Homo sapiens: one gene and its partner. The protein of the gene in region 1 interacts with the protein of each later gene in a pairwise test. Each region holds a gene or a part of one and is shown on either strand. Other genes may lie near its edges.

What was found. The genes of interacting proteins can lie anywhere in the genome.
Region 2: the proteins of SLC25A5 (region 1) and ADCK2 interact in binary tests that used the Homo sapiens proteins (3 or more experiments, as listed by UniProt).

What each region holds. Positions count from the first base shown.
Region 1 is NC_000023.11:119,466,264-119,470,012, reverse strand, and holds the start of SLC25A5 (ADP/ATP translocase 2), read right to left. Parts: upstream 1,570-3,749; 5' UTR 1,498-1,569; coding exon 1,387-1,497; exon of another isoform or gene 893-1,386; intron 353-892; coding exon 1-352.
Region 2 is NC_000007.14:140,682,797-140,686,545, reverse strand, and holds part of ADCK2 (uncharacterized aarF domain-containing protein kinase 2), read right to left. Parts: intron 1-3,749. UniProt on the Homo sapiens protein: The function of this protein is not yet clear. It is not known if it has protein kinase activity and what type of substrate it would phosphorylate (Ser, Thr or Tyr).

The DNA of each region.
Region 1 (3,749 bases):
GGAATTCCCTTTCAGCTCCAGCTTTACCCACATCAGCTGCTAGACGGGTACGGGCAAAATCAAGAGGGTACACAAAACACAGGGATGTGGCCCCTGCGGCACCACCCGATGCCAGATTCCCTGCAAAGTAGAGCCAAAACTGGGTTCTCTTGTCCACACCACCCAGGAAGATCTGCTTGTATTTATCTTTGAAGGCGAAGTTAAGAGCCTGGGTGGGGAAGTATCTGATGACATTGGCCAGGTTACCGCGCCAGAAGGACAGAACTCCCTGCTCCTTGGGAATACGGACCACGCAGTCTATAATGCCTTTGTATTGCTTATCTGCAGTGATCTGCTTGCTGGCATGCTGCACCTAACAGACAGGAAGGAAGCCAACAGGGACAGTTATAACCATGGGGAAGGGAAAGAGAAGAGCTTATGCCATCTCGATCAATGCCCTTTAAGGTAGGCTCCCCTCTCTCAAATCTAGTCTTCGTATATCATACTGGCTGGACCCTCCCAACCCTCTGAGGCTGTCACAGGGGAAGAGGTGATCTGCACCAGTAGCATTAAGCCTCCACCCCTCTGAGTGGAGAGGGGGCATCCTCCAGCGGACCCGTGACCTTCAGACCTAGGAGAAAGGTCATTACCTCAAACCCAGGTTCAGAGGCATTAGGGCGAGTCCCACATAGGGCGCGGTCACCTTGGGGACCGCAGCCTACGCCTCAAGTCTCCTGAGCTGCTTCCGTCTCGCTCCGCCCCCACTCCGCTCCCAGAGGTGACCCGAGCGCCGCCGCCGCCAGCCCTACACGCTAGCCCAGGAGCGCCCTCTAGAGCCGGCACTGGAGAGCGCGCGGCGCAGGGAGGCAGGCGGAGACGCGGCGGCAGCGGCCGCGGCTGCGCGGGGGCGGACGTAAAAGGCACACGCGCTTCCCGGCGCCGGCTTCCGGCCCGGCGAGGTTTGAGCGCGTCCGCGGGCTGGGAGGCCGCTGGACCCGGGCGCATGGCCTCCCCCGGGCAGTTATCTCCTTGCCGCGACCTTGAGGTCTTCGGTAAGAACTGGCGTTCCTCTTTCTAACGCCGGCTTTCGGCCTTCGCCCTTGACGCCCAGGCCCGGGGAGGCCGTCACTCAGAAACTGCTCCATCCGAGTCCGCCGCCTCGGAGATGCCGAGAGCCTGGTCCTGCCCTCTGCCCCCGGCCCCTTCCTAGACTCACTACTTCAGGTCACTAAAGGCGCCTCCCACCAGTTTGACTTCTGTTCTGCCTCTGCGCCCCGCTCTGGCCTCTCCTAAGCCGCTTCCCTGGCCATGTCTTTAGAGTTCGCTCCCCGCCACCCCTCGGGCGCCCGCCTTCTGTGCGACCCTTCCCCCCACTTCCTGGTTGGGCTCCTGGATCCCAGGACGTACCTGCAGCAGCAGCTTGACCCGCTCGATGGGCGCTACCGCCGTCTTGGAGATGGCTGCGGCCACTCCACCTGCCAGGAAGTCCTTGGCGAAGGACACAGCGGCATCTGTCATGTTGAAAGAGGAGGCAGACTGCTGCAGGACGGGACTGGGCCGGGAACCGGCTTTGACTCCGGCGCTGCGGGGCGGAGCGAAGCAAATGGCCGATTTATATAGGGGGAGCCGGAGCTGGAGCGGCAGGCGTCGGAGGCGGGGCCGGGGCGGGGTCTGGGCCCCGGCGCGCTGGGCGGCAGAGCCGCTGAGTGGCCCAGCTCGCAGGAGGAGGAGTCGTGGAGGGCGGGCCGGGACTGCTCTCCGCGCCGCCCGTGCTCGCCCTCGGCACCTGACCCGGCGAGAGGAAGGGGCGGGTCCAGAGAACACCCGGGACTTGAACGCTGGACCCTGAGAGAGGCCTCGGAGAGGGGAGGAAGGGTGAGGTCACGATGTGCCTGGACAAAAACCCTTGGAGCAGGACCAGGACTAGGGTGAGACGCATTTGCTACAGGGATGCCAAAAGAACCCTTCAGTCATCGAGATAAACAGTAGTCAATGCGATACTTTAAAAAAGTCGTATGGGCAAACTACATCCTACTGGCCGGCCCCCTTGTTTTGTAAATAAAGTTTAATTGGAGTGTCAAGGCTGGGTTTAGGGTGAGGCAAGCGAGACAAGGTCATGCAAGTGCAGGTTGGGATCCTGTCTGTATTTCAAATGTTGATCATTTGTTCATCATGGATTTTTGCATTGCTTCTGATTTTTTTAAAATAGTACATGAAAAATCATTTGTCTTAATTACTGAGTTGTTTTTCACCAAGGTGAATGCCTCACTCTTCCCACTCTAGACCGTGTGCTGTCCTGGAGCCAGTGAAACCAGACGAAATTAAGGGAACAGCAGACGAAGGAACTGCCACCGTGCCCCAGACCCTGGTTTGCAAATACAGTTCGACAAAGATCTTGCCAGGAATTGGCCTGGGAGAGTCCAAAGGACTGGGCTGGGGGTGGGGAAATGATTTTAGCCAGAAGACAAATATAGAGGTTGTACCCAGAAGGTTAAGAGGCTTAGGAAGGTTAAGAACTACGTTAACATTTGGCTCCCAGGACCCCAGGTAAAGTGCCCTTGGATTGAATAGATTTCTGAACTCCAGAAACATTTAGAGGAATCAATAGAATTAGATTGGCAGCCATTGTGCCAATGGACAAGTGCTTACTGAGCCCCTTAATCCCTTCACTGGGTAAGCATTTGCCACACATGTCCTCAAAAACCTACTTGTTAGCTTAAGTGGACTCCCTCAAGTTCAGAACAGGAGCAAATAGTGTAATCACAAGTTCCGTGTCTGAATAATCATAACAATGTTTATAAAAATAAGGACGACTGTTGAAAACTGCAACTGCAGCTGAACCTTATGTGCCCAGACTTCAGAATTCCCATAGGCAAAATGCCAGCAGGCCTTTGCACACTGAACACATAGTGTTCATATCCTTCACTTTCCTTTCCTGCCCTCTCCTATCTTCTCCAGATCTGCCTGTGAAAGGACCCAATTCTAGGACCCCCCAGGATGGTTAGGCCCTTCCTCTGAAAGTACACTTTGCAATTTGTTAGTCTCCTCAAGAACCCCAGCGATCGAAACTGATGCACACAAATTGCATGTGTTCAAAGGAGCAATTTTGAATCTAGCTTTGTTGATCCTGGGAGAAATCTTTGACCTGTGTTAGTGAAAGGCTATGGTGTTTCTCAGCTGATTATAATAGCGAGGTAGCTGAATGCAAAAAAACAGTTTCAGAGAATGGTAGAGTATATCCTCCAAAGGTGATACTCGCTTCTCTATTCTGGTGAGAGAAACAAGAGCTAAAGCAAAATTCTACAGAGGGCTTTATTTGGAGAGAGGTGGATTTTATTTATAATGCATTTAAAATTCAAAATCTTTCTAGTTTGAACTCTTGACATTCTGATTAATGCATTTTTATTCAACTGTTAATTATTCCTCGATACACCTCGCCATCACTTGTGTATCCCTTTTCTACATGTGACCTTTCCCTGGCCACATCTGCTACTCTCTTTGAGCATGATGCCTCTACTGTATTCTATTCCAGAGCTCATTGTTTTGTCAGTTTTTTTTCTCTCCACAAAAAAAGATGATCAAATAATTACATAGAATTTTTCCCTTCTCAGTCTTTGGGTAACTAAGTGTGGTTTTATTGACGATGAAATACAAGATGGGTCATTTAAAAGCAACTTCTTGTCATCACTTGGTATTTTGCTAAATCCACGGTGAGCTGGAGCTCCCGTAGTCACCTATCACCGCGTGTATTTTAAGGAGTCAGATATTCT
Region 2 (3,749 bases), on another chromosome or scaffold:
ACTTTGGGAGGCTGAGGTGGGCGGATCACTTGAGGTCAGGAGTTAAAGACCAGCCTGGCCAACAAGGTGAAACCTCGTCTCTACCAAAAATACAAAAATTAGCTGGACATGGTGGCACATGCCTGTAATCCCAGCTACTCGGGAGGCTGAGGCAGGAGAATGGCTTGAACCTGGGAGGCAGAGGTTGGAGTGAGCCGAGATCGTGCCACTGCACTCCAGTCTGGGCGACGGAGCGAGACTCCATCTCAAAGAAAATAATAACAAAAATAAATAAATAAATAAAATAAAAAGTCTAAGGCCAAACTGCATTTGAAATGCCTTATTTTTACTTTATGATTTGAATCATTAATATTCTAACTAAAATAATTAGCTATTTATTAAAGATTTTCCCCAAACCTCTATGTTCTTTAAACTCATAGAACTGCATTTCTTTAAAAACAGCTCATAAATCAGACTTTCCCTCCGTTACTTCAACCTGTCCACATCAGTGAGGTGTGAGAGCAAGTGCCACTAGCAGCCACATGCACACAGAGCCCTTCTGTGGAGGAGGACACAGTTCTCAGGACATACTGGTATGCAGAATTAGAGGAGCAGGAAGGACACGGCTTTGAACCTGCTAAGCTGGGCAGCAACCCCCAGGGATTGTGTTGGATTTGGCACGGCTTGTGGAACAGGAATCAGCTTCCAATAACCGGTCATCTCGGAGGTCAGGGAAACCCCAGCAATCCTTCCACGGGGGATGAGAGGAGAGACCAAGGCAGGAGCAGAGCAGCTGCTGGTGGACGGGCTCTCAGGGACTGCTTCCAGCTGACATGGGGCCCCAAGCACTGTAGATCCCCTCTTCCCTGTAAATCCAGGCCATAGACCCCATCCCTTATGGCGGCAGACCATGAAGGGACTGTCCTAGTCCAGACTGTGGCTTTGGTAGGGATAAGGGAAGCTGCTACCGGTGTGAAAATCCTGGGACCTGGGGGGCTGGGACCTGCACACCTGCAGGACATGGTCACCAAAGGCTGGGCTGACCCTCCAGCGAAGCTGGTGCCTCCTAAGTAGGTCACTAATCTTGGCCCTGGTATACATTTTTTTTTTTTTTTCTGAGACTGAGTCTCACTCTGTTGCCCAGGCTAGAGTACAATGGTGCGATCTGGGCTCACTGCAACCTCCACTTCTTGGGTTCAAGCGATTCTTCTGCCTCAGCCTCCCAAGTAGCTGGGACTACAGGTGTGCACCACCACACCCGGCTAATTTTTTGTGTTTTTAGTAGAGACGGGGTTTCACCACGTTGGCCAGGCTAGTCTCAGACTCCTGACCTCAAGTGATCGGCCGGCCTCAGCCTCCCAAAGTGCTGGGATTACAGGAGTGAGCCACCATGCCTGGCCTAGTATACTTTTAAAAATTCACTGAGCATAATTTAAGATCTATGCACTTTATTGAATGTTGCTATAATTCAGTTGTTTTTTTTTTTAAGTTTCTGAATCTTCTGGAACCTTGCCCTCAGCTCTGCCCAGGGTCTCATGCCCCGATCCTGACCCCAAAACTGGAGGCCCCTCATCCTCGCTCCACTCCTGGTGCTGCTTCATGGTGCTTCTCCCCTGGCTACATCCCTCTTGTGCCCCTTGGAGCCCTGTTCCTGTGGACAAAGTCCTCTTGCCACCGGGTTCTGACTGCAACTACTGAATTGAAACCTAGGTGTGCCTCAACAATCCTGCTTCTCCAGGAGCCAGAGGGGTGGGAGCTGCTGACTCCCCATCCCACAGGCCCTGGGGTGGAGTGGAATTAGGGTTGGAGTGGTGTCACCTGAGCCCACCCCCACAACGGCTCTCAGCCTTCCGCATGTGCGTGCGTGCTGTCAGCCTGCAGGACTCCACCTGCTCTGAGCGCCCCTGCTGCGGGGACTCCAGACGTGCCTCCACCAACAGCTCGATCTCTGACTCCTCGATTCATTCTCCGGCTCTCACCACATGCCTGGGTCCTCCCTACCATGATTCTTCGCCTCTGAGACCTGGGTATTCTTCTTCCCTATCCGCCTCGACCCCATCGCCCATTCCTGTCATCCATCCCTTCAACCACTGTCCTCTGTCCCAACCACCAGAAAGTCCAGACCCCCGACAATCTAAGATCTCCTGCATGGGGGCTGCTAACAATGCTGGGTCACGATTACTGCCAACGAAGGCAGCCATAACTAGCGTGGCTTAGGACTCACTGCAGCTCCTTAGGAATTTCCACTCCTTTAACCATCATGGTGACCCTATGAGGAAGGCACTTCTTATCCTCTTTTGAAAGATAAGAAGCCTGACGACAAAGGTTAAGTAACTTGCCCCAGACACTCCTCTCTGCCCTGAGCTAGTAAACTGGAAGCTGAGATTTGAACTCAAAACAAATCCTGCTCTGGGCTCCTAACCCCCAGGCTACACTGCAGATAGGCAAAATACCCCTCTGCCTCTCCAACACCAACATGGCTTGCCCCTCCTGACAACCATCCACATTTTCCAAGTAGCTCTTTCTAGTCCCAGGGCAGCAATTTCAAACCTCTGTGTTCTCTTTAAACCTCCTCTCCCATGGCCCTCTGCATCCTACTCCCAGCAGAGAACAATGGCCCCTTAGTTCACAAGGAAATAGAAGGTTTCCCATGGAAGCACCATCAAATCCTGTCCCTGTGCCTGTAAGTTTCTCCATCCCTCCAGCCCAGGGTTTCTCAGTCTATTGCTGGGGGTGGGGACGGCTGTCCCTGCACTCTGGGGTGGTAAGCTCCTGGCCTCTTCCCAACAGCTGCCAGTAGCACCCCCAACCCCCAACTATAACAACCAAGAATGTCTCCAGACATCGCCAGATGTCCCCTGGTAGACAAAACCACCCTGTTGTAAACCACGGCTCTGGCCTTTGTGAAACAAAGAATGCCCTCCTGATGCGGCCAGGCCCCTCTTCAGCTGGGGGGCCTTCAGAATCCTCGCTGGTAGACACAGGAAAGACAAAACCAACCAAGAATTCTTAGGAGATGGAAACCCAGGTTCTTAGGAGGAAGAATACCCGGGTCTCAGAGGAAAAGAATCATGGTAGGGAGGACCCAGGCATGTGGTGAGAGCTGGAGAACTTGAACATGTTTAAATGTCCAAGAATCAAAATCCACCTTCTGACTCCCCTGCCTCTCGTCTCACCCTCCCACTCCAACTCCACACAGTGGACATGAGGTTGTGACATTAGGGCATTCCTCAGCATAAAAACCTCCTATGTCTCTTTATGTTTGTTTGTTTGTTTGTTTGTTTAGACGGAGTCTCGCTCTGTCGCCAGGCTGGAGTGCAGTGCTGTGATCTCGGCTCACTGCAATCTCTGCCTCCTGGGTTCAAGCAATTCCGAGTAGCTGGGACTACAGGCATGCACCACCACGTCTGGCTAATTTTTTGTATTTTAGTAGAGACAGGGTTTCACCATGTTGGCCAGGATGGTCTCGATCTCCTGACCTCGTGATCCACCTGCCTCGGCCTCCCAAAGTGCTGGGATTACAGGCATGAGCCACTGCGCCTGGCTTTTTTTTTTTTTTTTTTTTTTTGAGACAGAGTCTCATTGTATCTGAGGTTGGAGTGCAGTGGCATGATTTTAGCTCACTACAACCTCCATCTCCTGGGCTCAGGTGATCCCACCTCAGCCTCCCAGGTAGCTGGGACTAAAGGCATGCTGCCACCAAACGTGGCCAATTTTTGTATTTTTTTTTTTTTTTTTTTGTAGTGACAGGGTTTTGGCATCTTGCTCAG